Regions from separate parts of the Homo sapiens genome. Here all the other regions are linked to region 2. The links come from fine-mapping of genetic effects on gene expression. A gene starts in region 2. Each other region holds a variant in brackets. All regions are shown on one strand. Distances are between the middles of the regions.

Region 1 (7,278 bases), 160 kb after region 2:
CTGTTGGAGATGCATTCCAGGCACGGGCCTGCTCATGTCACAAGGCCCAGGCTGTTGCTCTCCTCTGATCCTTATTCTTACTCCCTTCTGCCCCATCTATCTTAGCCTTTTTCTCTTTTCCCAGCTTCCTAAAATTTTCACTCCCCAGTGTGTCCTATGAACCATTGTTCTACTGGTGGTAAAGTTCAAGGTCAACTCATTTCTTCCCCTCACTCTACCTTCATATTAACTGAAGCCTTGCTCTCTGTCTTCTGAACACATTTTTATTAGACAAGGCACTTTATGTTGGAAGTTGCAGAAACCCAACTCCAACTAGCTTATGCTAAAAGGGAATCTGTTGGGTGCTATAACATAGAAGGGCAGGATATTACTGGTTTTAGGTTAGGCTGGATTTACATGATCAACTGATGTCCTGAGAGCTCAGTCTGTCGCCAACTTTGGCTCTGCTTTACTCTTGTTGGGTTCATTCTCTGGCAGTATCTTTCTGTGGCTTTAAGAAAGCGACTGGTAGCTCCAGGTTGTGATGTTTACAAATGCAGCTCTCATGAGGGAAGCCCTGTTTCTCTTTAATAGAAATAACCAGGCTGGATGCAGAGGCTCACACCTTTAATCCCAACATTTCGGGAGGCCGAGGTGGGAGCATTGCTTGAGCCTAGGCATTTGAGACCAGCCTAGGCAACATAAAGAGACCCCATCTTTACCCCCGCCAACAACAAAAAACAGAATTAGCTGGGTGTAGTCCCAGCTACTCAGGAGGCTGAGGTAGGAGGATCACTTGAGCCCAGGAGTTTTTGAGGCTGCAGTGAGCTATGATAGTGCCACCGTACTCTAGACTGGGCAACAGAGTGAGGCCCTGTCTCTAAAGAAAAAGAAATAAAATTAAATCAGCAGCATCAAATGGAAAATTGGCCCTGCTTGGGTCATGTGCCCATCCTTCTTGAATTAATCTAGGATGACCAGGCATGTGCCACGTGATTCTTCCTCTGTGGTGTAGTTGAACCATGCAAAGCTGTGTGAGGGGCAATTTCCAAAAGGAAGGAGAGCTGGGCCGCTGGAGCATAGCAGAGCCCACTGTGATTCTGTGTTTCATACCCCTGCCATTTATGCCACAAGTGCCTTTCCTCTTCTTCCTTTAGCCTGCACCTGCGCTTCTAGCTGCTCATGTCCTATTTCTTGCTGGTGAGTGTGCCTATATTTTCATACTTGATTCACTCAGACAACCACCATCTAGGTTGGGAAATCGAACTCACCGGCCCCCTAGAAGCTCCTGTGTGATGCTTCCTGATCACAATCTGTCTGTGAAAGACAAAACAAAAAATACCTTTAGAAAGTAATAGCAGGAAACTAGAAGCACTAAATCTAAAGGAAAACATTAGTTCATATGACTACACTAAAATGAAGAATTTCTGTTTATCAAGAGACATCTTTAGGGAGTACCCATACAAATTCCCACAATGACAAGGACATATCACAAGGATAGAGGAGCCAGCCTGAACGAGCTTCCAGTGGCCAAAGCTGGAACAATTTGAGCAGCAAAGTAAATAACAATAGTAGTGAATTATAAACTAAAGAATAAAATAAATATCTGTGAGTACAAACTGATATAAATACATGATTGAGTATGTAAATAAAATGGGAAGACGGGATAAGTCTTCCATACAGAAGAATTCTAAAGTAGGTAGACGCTCCTCCCTCCAGAAATATGAGTTTCAGCATGAGCTAGACTTAGGGACTTGCTTCCAAAGAACGGAATATGGAAAAGGCAGAAGAGTCACATTACAGTGGGAAAGCCTTAACCAAATGCTCAAAGCTAATATTCCCCATGATGAGCCATGCTGAGATCACGTGCCCTAGATATGAAGTGAGGAGAAGGGCGCCTCTCGTCTGTGGTTCGCCTCTAACACATATGCCCAGTCTAATCGTCCAAAGACATCAGACAAGCCCAAAATGAGGGACATTCTACAAAATACTTAATCTTCAAAGGTGTCAAGATCCTAAAAAAGGACTAAGAAATGGTCACACGCGGGAGGAGGAAACCTAAGGAGACATGACAATGAAGTGAAACGCAGTGACCGGGATTGGATTCCGAAACAGCAAAAGGACATGAATGGAAAGAGTGGTGAAGAGTGTTTCGTTTAATTAATAGTATTGCACCACTGTCAGTTCCTCAGTGTTGACAAATGTACTGTGGTAACTTAAGATGTTAACGTTAGGGGAAGCTGGGTGAAGCCTATGTGGAACTCTGCATTATCTTTGCAACTTTTCTGTAAACCTAAAATTATTCGAAAATAGAAGTTTATTAAAAACACATCTGTATGGCCAGGTGGGGTGGCTCCCGCCTGTAATCCCAGCACTTTGGGAGGCTGAGGCGGGCAGATCACTTCAGATCAGGAGTTTGAGACTAGCCTGACCAACATGGGGAAACCCCGTCTCTACTAAAAATACAAAAATTAGCCGGGTGAGGTGGCGCATGCCTGTAATCCCAGCTACTCCGGAGGCTGAGACAAGAGAATTGCTTGAACCCGGGAGGTGGAGGTCGCAGTGAGCCGAGATCACGCCACTGCACTCTAGCCTGGGTGACAAAGTGAGACTCTGCCTAAAACAAAAAACAAAACAAAACAAAACATCTCTGAGAGGAAAAAAAGCTGAATCACAGAGGGGAAGAAGGTATGTGCAGTGCACATAACCTACAAAAGACTCCTATTCAGAATGTACAGAGTCCTTACAAATCAACATGAAAAAGGCACTGGAATCAATAGAAAAATAAATGAGTAAAAGAACAGAACAAGCACATTGCAAAATAGGACAGCCAAATGGCCAAGAAACATGAAAAAGTGCCTTGTCTCATTAGGGAACTGTGCATGAATTATTGTTTAAAATATTTGTTTTGTGGCTGTGTTTCTTCTTCGTGCATTCCAATTTTGTGGGAGTTGCAGCTCCTCTGCCTTCCTTCATAGCTGTCACTTTCTCTCTTTGTTTGCCTTTCATTTCGCTCGCCCGTCTAATCCGTTTCCCCCTTCTGGGTTCCGAAGTACTTTCTCGTGCTGCTTCCAGTTTTGTCTTCATTTTTGTGATGATTTAAATTTTGATTCTACTCTTTCCTGGGTTTTGCCAGCTTTCTTTTCATATCCTTCTGTTTTCTCACCATCTCTTTCTTGAGCTGTTACTTAAGTTTAAAAAATTCATGGCAAAATATTTGGATATGCTTTTCATCTGTTCATTGCAACACATTTTTGACAAGTGTTTTTTATCTGCCATTTTTCTCTCATTTTTAGTCTATAATATTTTTGTATAGATTGTGTATAGATCTAAATATTATCCTTCTTTGATGCAGACAAGTTTTTCTTGGACCAGATATTTGCAGGAGGTTCGTAAGAGGTAGGGGCCGGGGCCATTCTAGGCTGACACAAATGAACCTGTGAATTATACATATATTTTAAAAAACAGAATTTGTTTAAACTTTTTCTTTTCTCCGCTCAGCAGGGATAGGAAGGTGTAGAGCTGTCTGCAATGCAAAGTCTTTCTTCTGCTGTTGCGTTAGGGTGTGTATTACTTTCATATTTGTAGTAACAAACACTGCAAACTTAGAACAATGCACATTTGGCTTAAAATAACACAACTTTATATCTTACAGTTCTGTAGATCCAAAAGGGGTCATAGTGGGCAAAATGATTTATGACCCCTTTTGGATCTCCAGAACTGTAAGATATAAAGTGGTGTCAAGATGTTTGCAGGGCTATGTTCCTTCTGGTGGTTCTAGGGGAGAATCCACTTCCTTGTCTTTTTCAGTGCCTGGAGGTCAACGACATCCCTTAGCTTATGGCCTGGTCCTCCATCTTCAAATGCATAAACACAGCATCTCCAGATCTCTCTCTTGGACATTCCTGCCTCTCATAAGAACCCTTGTGATTACATTGGGCCCACCTGGAAAATCCAGGCTAATCTCAGCATCTCAAGATCCTTCATTTAATCATACCTGCGAAGTCCCTTTTGGCAAGTAAAGTAGCGTGTTCACAGGTTTTGGAGATTATAATGAGGACATCTTGGCGGGGGCACTCTTCTGCTGCCTCAGGGGTCACAGTCTGGATTAGGATGCTTATTATATGTGCCCTTGGGTCAATGCCTGAGGAAGGGAGGAGGGGAAGCAGGAATGGGCAGAGGCAGTTGTTGGGCTGGGATGCAGCCTGACAGCCTCTGCTCACCCATGAGGAGGTCCGGGGCCGAAAGGAACAAGAGAGTTGTCTGGGGTTGGGCAGATGTGGTGAACTTTGATACTTCTGCTTCCATTAGTCTTTGGATATGGGTTGCACACAAGCTGATGTGACCTGGATGAGCAGTGGTCCTCAGCTGAAGAAGC[C/T]CTGGCGAGGCTGACAGCTCGAGGTCGCCCCTGATGGCACTTGCAGAAGGTGGGACAGGTCCTTCCTCAAAGCAGGGTTTGGGTGGCGCATCTCCATGGGTCCTCTGGACAGACTGCTTCCTACAAAAAGCGCTCATCAGTGTGACTGCACCTTCACCCGCCTCTGCTTCTTGGGATCCGATTCGGTCTTGGGAGGCCCCCTGGGGTCTGCCTCCACTGTTGGAAGTGAGGAGTCCCAGGTTTTCTCTCTGGGCTGCACCCTCATCCTCCTGAGCCACCACTGCCAAGGACTCTCTCCTCTCATCCTGCATGCGCAGTCTTCACTCCATTTGGAGAGGATATTGTTCAGAGACCTATCTGTCTCCTAGCTTCATCAGGTATGGCCACTGTGTTTTGGTTTTCCTTTCTGCTCGATGGTCCAGGGCAATTTCCAAGAAGGTAAGGGGAAAGCCATCTCACACCATAGGATCCAAACTGCTCTCTCCCCTTCTTAGAGAATCAACTTCTCTCCACTCTAGGAGGACAGGAGGCACTGTGACCTGCGCTCGCTCCCGCACCCCACCCTCTGCCACTCCACTTCAAAGGCACGCCATCCCTTGCAACACACAGTCCCAACAATCTGTGTGGCTGGTGCCCTCTGGCCTTACCCCCTCTCCTGGATGATCCTGACTTCTCGTCACTCCATTCCTGGGGCACACACATTATGGTGAGCATAACTTGCAGGCTCCCTCCATCTCCACCTCGCTGTAGACATACCTGAACTCCATCCTGTCTTGGCCTTAGCTGCATCAGGCTTCTGAGATCCCAGACTTGGCATTTCCCCACTGGTCAGCACTGCCTGCATCTCCAGCCTGTCCTTCACCTCCCTGATCAGCGTTCTCAGATCCAGGTGTCCTTCCCTCCCTGATTGACCCAGTTCATCCCACTGTTGTTGCTACACTTGAGCCCTCATAACTTTTCAGCTACTTCATGAAATTCTAGCACTTGGACATTAAAATGGGACTTACATGTCCTCTAGGTCAACTTGTATTTGTGGGAAACAGCCTCCAGCTTTCTGTGTGGTGAAGCAAGGGGCCCGGGCGTGCGTGGCCTAGGCCTGGGTGTGTGGTCATGTTTTCTCTAGCTGGAGGATGCTCCTCCAGCTGTCTCTTGGCTGAGGGGCTTGCAGAGTGGACAGGAGCGAGGTATAGAGGAGAGCTTTGAGCATATAAAGAAGTTCTTTTGGGTTGAGTTCTCTAGATGGGGTTTAGGGGAGGAAAAAGAATCCCCAGTCAACAGAATTAATTTGGGACTATCCTCTTTGAAGAAAGGGAGTTAGTATAGAGTGGGGAAAACATTTGCCTTGGAGTTGGATTGACTTGGGTTCAAATATGAGCTCCAACATGTGCTGGCTGTGTGACCTCAGAGTCATTGCTTAAAGGACCTCATTTATTGTACCTGTAAAGTGGTTAGTGACAGGATCTCCCCATATGTGGTCATGCAATTTAAAGGATATGTGAAAAGCTTGGCAAGTGTTTAGTTAGGTTAAGCCATGCTCACTGCTGTAGTAAGCCAACTCCAAAACCTTAACCATGGTTAAGAAATAAACCTCAACCGTGGTTTATTTCTCATTAGGGCAAGGTCCCAGGCAGTGCTCCTCCCTGCCATGACAGAGGTCGAGGGGCTCACATCCTGTGACTCTGCCCTCTCAGCAGGCGGCCTCTGTAGTGGCTGCCATGTGGAGAGTGGCTACCAGGTGGTGACCGAAGAGACACACCAGCTTGGAGCTTTGCTTGGAGCCAGTTTCATGGCCCCATTGAAATGCATGGGAGGCCAGGAAACATGAGGGAGACTGACGGGCTGACTCACGTATCTTAGTTCTTTACTCCACAAACATGACAACATTTTGCATTTTCCTTTGAATGAGAACCCCATAACAATTCCTTTAGCAAATCCCATGGTGGCCTCAGATGTCCTATTAGAAAAGGGGGTTCACACTTCCACACTCAGGTCTGGATTGGGACCAGGAATGTGATGGAGAGGCTGGCAGTAAGGACATTTTAAAAAAAGATGTCTAAATTTCTCAGAAGGAGAAGGGAAACCAGAAAAAGATGGGAGAAATTTAAAACTCTGGGGGATTGAACCTGGAGTGGTGGTGAATGTACTTTCCTTACTGCTGGAATGTTCCTTTGAATCCATGCAAAATGAAAATCCCCTCCACCACAGCCCAGATGGATGGACCCCTGTCCAGGAACAGAGCATGCTTGACTTCGCTGGACAGTGCCTGTTGTAGGCGAAATCTGTCTTCTAGTGCCTTGCATCTGTTGGTCCTGCTTCTCCTTCCAGCTGCTCCATAAGCCCAGCCTCTGACAACGACTCAGATATGTTAGGCAAATGCTCGGGTCCCCTCAACCTTTTCTTCTCTGCGCAAAACAGCCCTTAACACTGCAACCACTCCTGGGAGGATAGAATTTTGAGGTGCTGGCAAGACACAGGGAGAGAGCCCTCACTAGCCCAACATCGCTGGCTTCATGAGTCTGCAGAGCTTAACACTTGGCTGCCCCTGTGGGGACAAAAGAAAGGCCCCCAGGAGAGCTTGGTTACTAGAATCAATGCAAATGGCAGGAGACAGGTTGCCTTCTAGGCCAAAGGTAAATCAGACATGACTTTAATAAAGCTAAATAAATAATGCGAGCAGAGGAAGGGCGACTTGGGGATAGACAACCCACAAAATGGGGAGTCCGAGAGATGGATGTTGACGGTGTCTGCCCAGCACTGTCCGGGGGACATGGAATTTGAGTGTTGTGAGCATCCAGGATGCTGGAGCGCTGATGTCTCGGGCAGGGAGAGTCATCAGGCCATATCATAGCGTTGGGGAGATGCCCTCCAATATTAGCACCTGCCATGGACCAAATTCCATGTTCACAGGCAATGTTTAGTTT
Region 2 (6,004 bases):
TGGGGTGAAGTTTAGGAGAGGCGTTGCTTAGGCCCTTACCTTGGGATAGGGTTTGGGTGAGTTGGGAGCTGGTTGAAGACCTCGAGCTCAGATGACAGAAAGTTAGGACTTGGGATTCGGCGATGGGAAGGGGCACCCGGAGGCAAGTTTGGGGCGACTGGGAGGCAGAGAAGCCGGTACCCTGGGGTGGGTGAGGGGACGGAGGCTGAGGACGGTGGGAGCGTCGCGGTGGGGTGAGGGCAGGACCCTGTGGAGGTTCCAGGGCTCCTGGCCAGGGGGCCCGGGCCTCACGGGCTCTTTGTGCCTCTCCAGCTCGGTAGCGCGGCGGGCAAGGCAGGCGCCATGACCCTGATTGAAGGGGTGGGTGATGAGGTGACCGTCCTTTTCTCGGTGCTTGCCTGCCTTCTGGTGCTGGCCCTTGCCTGGGTCTCAACGCACACCGCTGAGGGCGGGGACCCACTGCCCCAGCCGTCAGGGACCCCAACGCCATCCCAGCCCAGCGCAGCCATGGCAGCTACCGACAGCATGAGAGGGGAGGCCCCAGGGGCAGAGACCCCCAGCCTGAGACACAGAGGTCAAGCTGCACAGCCAGAGCCCAGCACGGGGTTCACAGCAACACCGCCAGCCCCGGACTCCCCGCAGGAGCCCCTCGTGCTACGGCTGAAATTCCTCAATGATTCAGAGCAGGTGGCCAGGGCCTGGCCCCACGACACCATTGGCTCCTTGAAAAGGTAAGTAGGTCAAGAGGCAGGAGCAATGCTAAAGACAGGGGTTGGGAGAGTGGTCGCAGAAGGCCCCCAGAGACACCTAAGACCCAGCCCTCCTTTATACTGGAGGCGCTGAGCGCCCCAGATCACAACTGTACTTGTTCCCCTGGCAGACGGCCCCTCCCAGGCCAGGGCCGGTGTGTTGTGGAGGGCAGGGGGAGGGTGGGAGTGCTGTTCCGGGGCCAGGGACTAGGATTGCCTGAGGCCTGCTCTCTTACCCAGGTCCCTCTCTCCTCAGGACCCAGTTTCCCGGCCGGGAACAGCAGGTGCGACTCATCTACCAAGGGCAGCTGCTAGGCGACGACACCCAGACCCTGGGCAGCCTTCACCTCCCTCCCAACTGCGTTCTCCACTGCCACGTGTCCACGAGAGTCGGTCCCCCAAATCCCCCCTGCCCGCCGGGGTCCGAGCCCGGCCCCTCCGGGCTGGAAATCGGCAGCCTGCTGCTGCCCCTGCTGCTCCTGCTGTTGCTGCTGCTCTGGTACTGCCAGATCCAGTACCGGCCCTTCTTTCCCCTGACCGCCACTCTGGGCCTGGCCGGCTTCACCCTGCTCCTCAGTCTCCTGGCCTTTGCCATGTACCGCCCGTAGTGCCTCCGCGGGCGCTTGGCAGCGTCGCCGGCCCCTCCGGACCTTGCTCCCCGCGCCGCGGCGGGAGCTGCTGCCTGCCCAGGCCCGCCTCTCCGGCCTGCCTCTTCCCGCCGCCCTGGAGCCCAGCCCTGCGCCGCAGAGGACTCCCGGGACTGGCGGAGGCCCCGCCCTGCGACCGCCGGGGCTCGGGGCCACCTCCCGGGGCTGCTGACCCTCAGCCCGCACTGGGAGTGGGCTCCTCGGGGTCGGGCATCTGCTGTCGCTGCCTCGGCCCCGGGCAGAGCCGGGCCGCCCCGGGGGCCCGTCTTAGTGTTCTGCCGGAGGACCCAGCCGCCTCCAATCCCTGACAGCTCCTTGGGCTGAGTTGGGGACGCCAGGTCGGTGGGAGGCTGGTGAAGGGGAGCGGGGAGGGGCAGAGGAGTTCCCCGGAACCCGTGCAGATTAAAGTAACTGTGAAGTTTTCACTCTTGCAGTGTGTCTGAGTGTGTGCGGGCTGGCGGGCGGGGAGTCCTCGCCCCTTGGGAGAGAAGGGCACGGACTGCGCCTGGGGTCTGGCCCTCCGCCTTCCCTTCTCCCCAGCGTTCTGCTCTGGCTTTGGCGCCGGCCTCCGTGGCCCCGCCCTCGGCGCCGGGCGCGCACTTCCCGCGGGCGGGGCTCGCGGCTCCCTGGCTCGCAGTGCCTGCCGGGAGCCACGTCTCCGAAGACCGATAGCTGCTTCGGGATTGGCGTCCGGGCGGCTATCTAGGGGCTGCTGGGAAGATGGCGGACTCGGTGGCTAGCCGATGAGGAGGCCGCGGGGGGAACCCGGCCCCCGGGCCCCGAGACCGACTGAGGGAGCGACCTGCGCAGGGCCCGGGGAGTCATGTAGGGGTGGCGCCTGCGGGGAGGGCTGCGGGAGGGCAGCGGGAGCTGGTGTTAGCGGCAGCGGCCACGGTCTCCTGGCGTCCCTGGGCCGGGGTGGGTGTTGGGGCCCCCGACTTCGCCGACTCCGCGCCATCGCAAAGCGGTGCACTCGGGCTCCACGCGCGCCCTGCGAGGTGGGCGCTGCGTTTTCATTTCACGGGTGAGGAGACTTAGAGAGACGAAGCCACTTGTCCAAGGTCACGCCGCTGGTGAGTGGGAGCGCCCAGCATGGAACCCAGCACCGTCCAGCCGCGGAGCCCGCGTTCCACCCTCTGTGCCGCCGCCGCCTCCTGTGGGAGAGGGAGGTGGTCGGGAGAGTGCACGCCGGTGCCGCCTGGGCTCCAGACTGGGCGCGACCACTAACCCGGTTAATGACCTCGGGCTTAACTTAACCCCTTCGCTGCTCTGGGCCTGCGTTTCTCCACCGGTGAAATGAGGTAATGCCAGCCCTGCCTACTCTTCATGGGCGTGTAAGGAGCATCAGAGATGGTGCATGTGGAATTGCTTTGCAAGTAGTGCTGCGCTGAGCGCACTGAGGATTATGATTGCTGTTTCAAAGGCGTGGAAGGAGGCAGAGGGGCGGGGTGGGGAAGAGGCCCAGAGCAGTCACAAAGGCTTGCTCTGACCACAGGCCCCCTAAATGAGGAGTGAGGTAAGCAGTAGGTAGCAGGTCTTTCTCCCCTTTGGAGAAAACCTCACCCCCTTTTTTGGGCTGCCCCTCAGGGTCTCCATCACCCAACTCCATGCTTCGAGTCCTGCTCTCTGCTCAGACCTCCCCTGCTCGGCTGTCTGGCCTGCTGCTGATCCCTCCAGTACAGCCCTGCTGTTTGGGGCCCAGCAAATGGGGGGACCGGCCTGTTGGAGGAGGCCCCAGTGCAGGTCCTGTGCAAGGACTGCAGCGGCTTCTGGAACAGGCGAAGAGCCCTGGGGAGCTGCTGCGCTGGCTGGGCCAGAACCCCAGCAAGGTGCGCGCCCACCACTACTCGGTGGCGCTTCGTCGTCTGGGCCAGCTCTTGGGGTCTCGGCCACGGCCCCCTCCTGTGGAGCAGGTCACACTGCAGGACTTGAGTCAGCTCATCATCCGAAACTGCCCCTCCTTTGACATTCACACCATCCACGTGTGTCTGCACCTTGCAGTCTTACTTGGTGAGGAGGGGCTTGAGGTGGGCGCCTGGGGGGCTAGGTGTTAATGAAGAATAGGGAGAACAGTAGAGGACCACGGACAGAGACCCAGCCTCTCAGGCGTTTGCCCAGGAACGCTTGCTCCTGCTCCCGTCCTATGTCTGCGGCAGACATCATGAGTCGAACGCACTCCTTCCGGCCTCGCTAGGGTGCCACCCCAGATTCCTGCTAATAGAGTGCCCTAGGAAGCCACCATAATTTGTCACAATTGGTATGAGATGAAAGCCTATTTGCCATCTTTGTATGTACTCCCTACAAACCGTTTCGATACCTCATAGCCACATGATACTTTACATGTCTCTAGTGTTTGCACTTAAACTCTAGCACACCTTCCCGCTCAGGAAACGGGAGAGGAGAAAGGTGGAGAATTCACCAAGTAACCCCATGATAAGAACAGCAGCACAGCTCTGTTACCAGGCTGCCTTTTACCTCTCCCCCTCAGGCTTTCCATCTGATGGTCCCCTGGTGTGTGCCCTGGAACAGGAGCGAAGGCTCCGCCTCCCTCCGAAGCCACCTCCCCCTTTGCAGCCCCTTCTCCGAGGTGGGCAAGGGTTGGAAGCTGCTCTAAGCTGCCCCCGTTTTCTGCGGTATCCACGGCAGCATCTGATCAGCAGCCTGGCAGGTGCTGGAGGGGGTTAAAATCAGATGGGGGTGGGGAGGGCTGACAGGAGGAGGAAGGTGGGCTCAGTTGGCTGGGCTGAGGTGGAATTGAGCCAGCCGGAGGTCCGGCTGAGGCCCAGCGTGACAGGCTGCTCTTCACAGAGGCAAGGCCAGAGGAACTGACTCCCCACGTGATGGTGCTCCTGGCCCAGCACCTGGCCCGGCACCGGTTGCGGGAGCCCCAGCTTCTGGAAGCCATTGCCCACTTCCTGGTGGTTCAGGAAACGCAACTCAGCAGCAAGGTGGGCTTGCCACCCACCCTCCAGTGCATCTCTGTCATTCTCAGGGACCTTGTCAGGCCCAGCGCCTCGTGCAGCTCGGCTATCCTTTTCCTGAAGCAGACACACCCTCTCTGTCCCCTGGGACCTGCATCTTTTCTACACCCTTTCTGTGGCTTGCCCACCTCCTGTCAGCAGCATGCATTCCTGGAAATCTGCAGTTTCCCAAAGCACTCTTAGCAGCATCCTAGCTCCACCCATCCCTCTCGAAGTCTTCAGGGCCAGACCCCACAGCGATGTCCCCTCTGCCTGTCTGGTGATTAGTCACGTGCAGCTCGTGACTGCTTTGCTGTTGAACTGTGAGGCCGGAGGGACTGTCCTGTCTTTACAGCAGTGTTGTAAACCTGAGGGCTAAGCCTCTCTAAGGCTTAGCTTGTAAAAGATGACTGCAGAAATACTTGACACTGGGTAATGAACTGCTCTTCCTCCACAGGTGGTACAGAAGTTGGTCCTGCCCTTTGGGCGACTGAACTACCTGCCCCTGGAACAGCAGTTTATGCCCTGCCTTGAGAGGATCCTGGCTCGGGAAGCAGGGGTGGCACCCCTGGCTACAGTCAACATCTTGATGTCACTGTGCCAACTGCGGTGCCTGCCCTTCAGAGCCCTGCACTTTGTTTTTTCCCCTGGCTTCATCAACTACATCAGTGGTACGCAGCCAGGATGGCTGGCTGGGCCCCTGAGGGCTGGAGAGGCAGGGGAGCAGGGTGGCCTGCAGCCCAGAGCCCCAGTCCCCGCCTCCCCACAGGCACCCCTCATGCTCTGATTGTGCGTCGCTACCTCTCCCTGCTGGACACGGCCGTGGAGCTGGAGCTCCCAGGATACCGGGGTCCCCGCCTTCCCCGAAGGCAGCAAGTGCCCATCTTTCCCCAGCCTCTCATCACCGACCGTGCCCGCTGCAAGTACAGGTGGATGGGGCAGCCTGGGGCAAGGGGAGGGGCCAGCCTGGGACCAGCAGAGTGGAAAAGCCAGAGGGACCATGAAGCGCCAAAGCTAAGGAGCTCTCGGCCACCATAAAACTGGGCCCTGAAGCAGCAGAGGGCTTTGCCCAGGGTGGTGGCACTAGACTGGGACAGATTAGGATGAGGTGCCGGGCCCTTCCTGCTACTGGTGTCCTTTCTCCTCAGTCACAAGGACATAGTAGCTGAGGGGTTGCGCCAGCTGCTGGGGGAGGAGAAATACCGCCAGGACCTGACTGTGCCTCCAGGCTACTGCACAGGTGAGCAAGGGGCAGGCGGCAGGCCCGGGGAGACGGAGCCCTGGCTAAGGCCGCCGGCCCTGCTCCCCTCCAGACTTCCTGCTGTGCGCCAGCAGCTCTGGTGCTGTGCTTCCCGTGAGGACCCAGGACCCCTTCCTGCCATACCCACCAAGGTCCTGCCCACAGGGCCAGGCTGCCTCTAGCGCCACTACTCGAGACCCTGCCCAGAGGTAAAGGAGGCAGGGTGGGGGAGCCCTGGCCACCTTGCCCGCCATGCCCTGAGCCACGTCCCTCCCCCTGCAGGGTGGTGCTGGTGTTGCGGGAACGCTGGCATTTCTGCCGGGACGGCCGGGTGCTGCTGGGCTCGAGGGCCCTGAGGGAGCGGCACCTAGGCCTGATGGGCTACCAGCTCCTGCCGGTGAGTGGCCC
Region 3 (7,278 bases), 90 kb after region 2:
CCCAGCAAGGATGTAGTGACTTTTTGTCCTTGAGTCTGACATTAGGGTATCCCTTCCCCTCCCAGCCCCAATTTCCTGGAACCCCCACACCCCCATGACTCAAGTGGGGGACACAAAAGAGCAGGAAGCTGCCTTCCAGTGCCTCCACCCCCACCCTGTCATTCAGTGACGCACGCTTCCCGGGGCCGCAGGTCAGCAGAGAGACTAGGGCTGAGGCAGGGTCAGCCGGCCAGGGAAGAGCTTGATGCCCTGGTGGGAGCATGGGGGACTAGGGAAACTACAGTTCCCAGAATGCAGGTGGGGTACACCAGCACTCTCCAGGCACTTCAGGCCAGAGTGCATGCTGGGGTTTGTAGTTCTGTGCCATCTGAGGGGCTGGAGAAAGGCCACTAGCTGGGCATCTGGTCCACAGGGGTCGAAGCCTCGTGATTTCGAGACCTCAGAGACTGAGAGAAAGTTTAAGAAAGAAACGGAAGCTGAGAGACTGGGAGAGGCAGAGACTAGGAGCAGCAGACAGACAGACAAACAAACAAGAGGATTTGTGTTGGCCAGACTCCTCTGAAAAGCAGTGGAGGATAAGGTTGGGGTGGGCCTGGGTGGGGGGCCGGCAGGCGGAAGGAACGGGCTGTGCTCAGAGCTCTGGGGTCACACCAAGAAGGTGGGGTCTGCCAGTTTTGGAGGATGGAGGGTGAAGGGGCCTCATAAGCTGCTCCTGGACACTAGTGTGCCCTGCTGCCCCTGTCTCAGGAGGAGGGAGATGGAAGGGCGGCATTCAGCCTGGGCTTTGTCCCATGACCCCAAGCCTGAGGCCCCACCACACCCCACCACCTCGCCTTCCCAGTGAGGCAGGGGATGGGATCCAGCCCCTACTTTTCAGGCATCTTCTACCATGCTGGAGGAGACAACAGATCCCAAGTCTGGCTTCCATATTAAGCCACCATTTGAAATGTGCATGACCAAGGATGACTCATTTTCCTAGGTCCCAGTTAATGGAGCTGTGACTGGCATCCTCAGGGTCAAGGTGACAGGCAGCATCAGATGCTGACATCCTTCTGTCTTTTTTTTTTTTTTAGACAGAGTCTTGCTCTGTCACCCAGGCTGGAGTGCAGTGGTGTGATCTTGGTTCATTGCAACCTCTGCCTCCCGGAGTGATTCTCATGCCTCAGCCTCCCGAGGACGACAGGCACCCACCACCACGCCTGGCTAATTTTTTTTTTTTTTTGAGACAGAGTCTCGCTTTTGTTGTCCAGGCTGGAATGCAATGGTGCTATCTCAGCTCACTGTAACCTCCGCCTCCTGGGTTCAAGCGATTCTCCTGACCCAGCCTCCTGAGTAGCTGAGATTACAGGTACCCACCACCACGCCCGGCTAATTTTTATAATTTTATTAGAGACAGGGTTTCACCATGTTGACCAGGCTGGTCTCGAACTCCTGACCTCAGGTGATCCACCTGCCTCGACCTCCCAATGGGCTGGGATTCCAGGTGTGAGCCACCATGGATGGCCATTGTCTTCTTGCCTGCACCACTGGCTGTGGCCCGTCCCTGTGGCCACCTGACCCCTCCCAGGCCTTCCAGTCCCATCTGGGCTCCACACTCTGCTAGATTCTTCTGGAAAGCAGGGCTTACCTTACGCTTTGGCACTACCCAAAACCCTCAGCCAAGAACAAAGCCACTCCAGCACATTGGCCTGGCCCTCATTTTCCTTGGTGCACTGCTTGAATCCTCTGTTCTAGACAAATGGGCTTTCTCGTGTCTCCCTAATGGTCCTGTGCTTCCCTGCCCCTGGGCCGCTGCTGTGCTGTTCCCTCCACCTCTCCCTTCCGCCTCTGACAAATGAAAATCTTTTTCTTCCTTGAGGCCCAGCCTGGGCAGCTCTGGAGGTGCACCACCCAGGCCTCCCTCTTAGAGAGCAGGTACCTGCTGCAGAAGGTGCTGGTGGCTGACAGCTTCCAGATGCCAGCCTTCAGTCCAAGGCCATGTGCTTCCCTGGAGTCTTGTGTAGGATATAATAAATTCCTCTTCTAAGGTTTTAGCCTGTAAATTAAGTACAATGAGTTCTGAGATCCTCTCCAAAGATCCAATGCATCAGTATGTTCAGCTTTGTTCTTCATCTTAAAGTTTAACTTTCATGTTCTCTTCGTCTCCTTGCCCCTAGTTTCAGTAAACAACCCCCTCCTAGCTTCTATCACCTGCTCCGAACTGAGTCACCACTGGTCACCTGCTCTGACCTGAGTCATCCTGAGTCACCTGTTCTGTGACCGTCCTTCCTGCCAAACTACTTACCCTGCCAATCCGGCTCTTACCCCTGCTCTCTTTAAAATAGCCAGTAACAATTAGCTCAGACGGTGTGGTCCAACCCTAGCCAATAGGGGAACAACACAGCTGTAGGGGCTACCTGCCTTAGGGATAAAAACCCCTTCCCTTCCCTTGTTCAGGTGTGCTCTTGCCATTGCTCCATCTGTGAGATGCACCCTTCTATAGAAGTAAAATTGCCTTGCTGGGAACATTTATATCTGAGTGCTATTTCTTTTGTGGCAC[C/T]GAAAATTTATTTCTAACACTTAGACAGTAACTGAGCCCCGGGGCGTCTGTGGGCGTAACATCCCCCGCTGGGCTGATGTGAGGCCCTTCTTCTTCTTCCCTCCTCTGCAGGTGTGAGCCTGGCATTGTGGGCCTGATCCTTCCCCTGCCCAACTCACTCCTGCTCCCGGTCCCTGTTATCTTTCTCAGGCATTGCCCGCAGTATTCCTCTTATGCTTCCAACTCCTGGGACTCTGCTTCCTGAAGGACCCAACCAACACAGTCGCAGGATGACTCCTCTGTGAGGTCTTCCTTACGTCCCCTTCTCCATGATCTCTGGGTGGCTGTCACCCTGTCCCCAAGGCCCCGGGGACAGCTCTTTCTCTGGGCCCTCCTGGTCGTGGTTTTTGGGCAGCTTGCTCTGTAAGTGTGGGTTCTCACTTAAATGAACCTGTGTGCTCTGAACCTGTGTGCTCTGGAAGACACAGGTCAGTTCCTCTCTGTGGGGATCCTCTGCTGGGTTGAGCTCCTGCACTGAGTGGGATTGCTTCATACATTGGCTTGTTTTGTTGCAAATGTGTGCAGCCGCCTGGGGACTGGAAGCTGTGCTCTGGAGGCAATGGAGAGGGTCCACTGAGAAGGGAATTGGCTGAGGCTAGATGGGTCTGTGTGGGCAGAAAGAAGTCAGTCTAGGTGAAGGGGAGGAGTGCAAGAAGGAGCACTCTGTGGCCACAGGGAGGATGGGTTACAGTTCAGTACAGCCAGCACTGAAGGCTGAGGGTCACAGGGAGGATGGGGTCCAGTTCAGTACAGTCAGCGCTGAAAGCTGAGGGTCAGAGTAGGCCTGGATTGGGTTTGAATTGGGGCAGAGGATGCCATGGCAGGGTCTTAAGAAAAGGAGGAAAAAAAAAAGTTAAACAGACAGAAAAAGTCAGAGATGAATGCTCTCTGGACAGGGGATTCCCTGCTTCCCCTTTCTTGGGCCGTGGCCAGTGTTGTCCGGAGTGTCCTGCCTTCCATCAGGGTGCTCTGATGAGAACAGTTGATTCCCCCGCCTGTCGGAGGAGGCCTGCCGTCCCCAGGGCTCTGCCTGGTGCTGGCCTGCTCTATGCCTGCAGCCCTGCCAAGAATGATGCCCATGCATCTTAGTGGCTGACTGCTCATATTGGTAACCATGTTTTAAAGAGGACTTTCCGAAAAAACAGTTTTCAAGGTTGGAGATTTGGTGTTCGGCTGAAAGAATTTCCATCTTCAATCATGAGATCTGAAGCTGAATGGGCTTTGGAGATGATCTGGTTGGGAACTGAGCCCCCTTGTCCCTGACAGTGGCTGTGTTTCCGCCTCGGGGAGGGCTGGCCCAGACCCCAGGGGTAAGGTGACAGCCTTCTGTGGGTGAGTAGGGATCCCTCCCTGGGGAGGGCTGTGCCCTGTGCCCCCTGCCCCCTCCATAATGCCAAAGAGGCGGCAAATCTTGCCCCTGCCTTCCCTCTCAGACCAGAGTGCTCTGCAGGGCTGGGCGGGGGACGCCTTGACCTTGGAGGGCTGTGCTGGGAAGGGAAGGCCTTGGGCCTGGGGTGTGTGCATGGGGGCCTGGGTGGTGAGGGCAGGGGTGACTGAGCGGAAGTCCCTGACTCTTTATAGCCCAGCCCGGGGCTGTTCAGTGTGAGCTGGAAGTACCCCACCCTTGCACTATGAGCAGCTTCCTTCCTGCCTGCTGGCAAGGACGGGTGGGGAGCGGGGAAAGGAGGGAAGGGAGGCGGGAGCAGCGGGAGAGGGGCGGGGAGCAGCTGCCGCCAGGCCTCCCCCTCCCGAGGATGTAACTCATGCTGAGTGCTGGGGGGCGGAGAGATTTGCTCAGCTTCCAGATTGCAGAATTGGTGCTGAGCCTTTGGTGAGGGCGTTGGGGCGGCTTCTGGGATGCTGAGGGTTCCGGGCTGTGGACGCGGTTGCCGGTCTGAAGGGGCTCCTGTGTTGATCCTGGGCGCCCCCTGGTAGCCCCAGCCCTTCTTGAGACAGCCACATGAGGGCAGCAGAGAGCCGAGGAGGAGCGATTTCAGCACAATCGTGGGATCAGACACCACGAAGGGAGGGGGAGACCCAGGGGATAGGAAAGGAGCCAACGGCATCGGGTGGTAGGTCTACACCAGCCATCTGGGGTCCCAAGGTGGCTCATTTGGGCCCACCCCCAGAGGAGCAGATTGGGACAAATCTGCGCCTCCCTGCTTCCTGCACAGACCACATGGGGTGTGTCAAACCGAAGGCTCAGGAGGTATCTTCACATACACACGTACACGCACACACATACATCCATGCATGCATGCACACTTTCTTACACATATATCCATGCATGCATGCACACACATACACATATATACATGCATGCATGCACAGTCACACACACATACATCCATGCATACTCTCTTACACACACAAATGTTTCGGGGAACGTTTGATTTCCCCACAAATTCATAAGTTGAGATCCTAGCCCCCAAGGTGATGGTGTTAGGAGGCGGGGTGTTTGGGAGGTGTTGAGATCGTGAGGGAGGAACCTTCCTGAATAGGATGCGTGCCCTTAAGAAAAAAACCCCAGAGAGATCCCTCACCTTTCCATCATGTGAGGACACAGTGAGAAGGCGCTGTCTATGAACATGGGTCCTCACCAGACCTTTCCATCATGTGAGGACACAGTGAGAAGGCACTGTCTATGAACCGTGGGTCCTCACCAGACATGGAATCTGCCAGCACCTTGATCTTAGACTGCGGCATCCAGAACTGTGAGAAATAAATTTATGTTGTCTTTAGGCCACCCGGTCCTTGGTGTTTTCTTACAGCAGCCTGAACAAACGGACACACACACATACATCCATGCATACGTGCACTCTCTCTCTCTCTCTCACACACACACACACACACACACACACACTCAGGGCAGTGGTGTTGAAGGAAGAATCTAAACCTGAAGGTTGATCAAGGCCTGGAGATTCTTGCATTTCCCTTGGGAAGGTGGAAGTTGGTCCAGACTCCCAAGAGCCCCCAGAGGCTGGCAGACCCCTGCCACTGCCAGGGTAAGGTCTTGGGTTTCCAGGTCACTGGGTCTGTCAGCCAGGAGGCAGAAGCGTCTCTGGAAGAGGTTCACCAGGCTCTGCCCCAGGGAGCCCACCTGAGGGCGGGGCAGCATCTCCCTGTGCCCCCTCCCTGCTCCCCAGCTGGGGAGCTCCCCCCCTCACAGTTTTGCAGTTGTCCATGGGTTGTGCATCCTGGGCTCCCTCACTGACCAGCCTCCTCATCTGGGCCCTGCCCCTCCAAAGCTAATTTGGGCCAAGAGCATCTGTGTGGATATGAAGGCTTTCCCATCCGTGGGAACTTGAAATTTCCTCCTTTTTTTTTTTTTTTTTTTTGAGATGGAGTCTCGCTCTGTTGCCCAGGCTGGAGTGCAGTGGCGTGATCTCAGCTCGCTGCAAGCTCCGCCTCCCGGGTTCACGTCATTCTCCTGCCTCAGCCTCCCGAGTAGCTGGGACTACAGGCTCCCGCCATCAAGCCCAGCTAATTTTTTTGTATTTGTAGTAGAGATGGGGTTTCACCGTGTTAGCCAGGATGGTCTCGATTTCCTGACCTCATGATCCGCCCGCCTCGGCCTCCCAAAGTGCTGGGATTACAGGCGTAAGCCACAGCGCCTGGCCGAAATTGTCCTTTATTCCGGGGATCCAGAGTGAGAACGAGGGGGTTTCAGGGGCAGGCTGAGGCCTCCTGAATGCTCACCATAGGTGCCCTGTCTTGGGCTCTGAAGGCCCTACATACAAAGTCATCCTATCTGCTGAGGCAAAGATATAAGGTTACCTCGGACTTGAGACGGATGGTTGTCAGGGATCCATCTGACAGGCCCTGCCCCCTTCCTGCCTCCTCCTGTCTCCCTCTCCTGCCACCCTCAGCCTGGCCCAGTTTCCTGGCATGGTTGCTGTGGCGCCTCTTGGGAATCGGAGCTTTGGGCCTCAAGTGTGCCCAGCATGGAAATTCCACAGCAACTGTCACTGGGATCGTCTGGACAGAACCCTCTCAGGTGCCCCCAGGAGGGGCTGGGCCCTCTCTCCAGACCAGGGTGGGAGGAGCAGCCTTTAGAGCCCCCTGCTGATCTGTGAGATGTGGAAATCCTGACTTCAAGCCCTGGAGAACCTTCAGTCATTGGTGACTTGTCTTTTTTCCTGCTCTCCCCAAATGGATTACATGCCCGACTCCCAGTGACCTCCCAGAGGCGTCCCTGACATATTTGCTGTTGATGATGACCTGAGGCTTCCGAGGGGCTCCCAGGAAATGGGGTTCCCAGTCTGTCGTCTGGTTTCCTAAGCACCAGCCCCGTCTGCGCTGGGCACTGCTGAGCCGGGCACTGCTGAGCCGGGCACTGCTGAGCCGGGCACTGCTGAGCCCACTTCCTAGAGGAGATGTTGTTCTGCTGCGCGGATCCAGAAGGGGGAGCTCTCAGGGCCTGTTCTTCTTCAGCCGGGAAAGATCGAATGCGCTCTTCCTGGACATTTAGCGCCCCAGCATTGCAATAGGCCTCTGCCGTCACCTTCACACCCTCACTGGCTCTGTCTGGCCCTGCACTGGACTGCTGGTCCCCCAGAGGGACAGAGATGAGGTCCTGACCACAATTCTCAGCTCAGCCAAATTCTCCCTAAGCCTTCCTCCCTTGCGAAGCCTTCCTCCCTTGTGAAGCCTTCCCTTATCCTTCTGGCCTTAAAACGATTCCTTCAGACCCTGAAGTC

What was found. PIP is the estimated chance that this variant, and not a neighbour inherited with it, causes the effect.
Region 1: its variant is the best candidate, but not a certain one, in a credible set for the expression of FASTK in anterior cingulate cortex (GTEx, PIP 0.68).
Region 3: its variant is the best candidate, but not a certain one, in a credible set for the expression of FASTK in fibroblasts (GENCORD, PIP 0.77).

What each region holds. Positions count from the first base shown.
Region 1 is chr7:150,913,967-150,921,244 of GRCh38, reverse strand. No RefSeq gene overlaps it. Among named protein-coding and RNA genes, the nearest start is that of KCNH2, 61 kb to the left of the region's middle. The variant C/T (reference allele first, on the strand shown) is at 4,358.
Region 2 is chr7:151,076,902-151,082,905 of GRCh38, reverse strand. FASTK (Fas activated serine/threonine kinase) reads left to right here and starts at 2,097. Exons shown (of 10, transcript NM_006712.5): 1 at 2,097-2,221; 2 at 2,984-3,406; 3 at 3,885-4,064; 4 at 4,205-4,344; 5 at 4,814-5,027; 6 at 5,126-5,285; 7 at 5,505-5,596; 8 at 5,670-5,805; 9 at 5,879-5,993. The coding sequence starts at 2,140. TMUB1 (transmembrane and ubiquitin like domain containing 1) reads left to right here. Exons shown (of 3, transcript NM_001136044.2): 2 at 313-731; 3 at 1,006-1,821. The coding sequence starts at 343. The coding sequence ends at 1,357. RefSeq lists enhancers at 790-1,084, 1,802-2,777, 2,778-3,754, 4,731-5,706, 5,707-6,004 and silencers at 1,683-2,362, 5,825-5,904.
Region 3 is chr7:150,985,941-150,993,218 of GRCh38, reverse strand. NOS3 (nitric oxide synthase 3) reads right to left here and starts at 2,202. Exons shown (of 27, transcript NM_000603.5): 1 at 1,919-2,202. RefSeq lists a silencer at 213-243, promoters at 1-473, 1-1,040, 1,982-2,850, a cis regulatory region at 960-980 and enhancers at 4,121-4,280, 4,787-4,827. The variant C/T (reference allele first, on the strand shown) is at 2,540.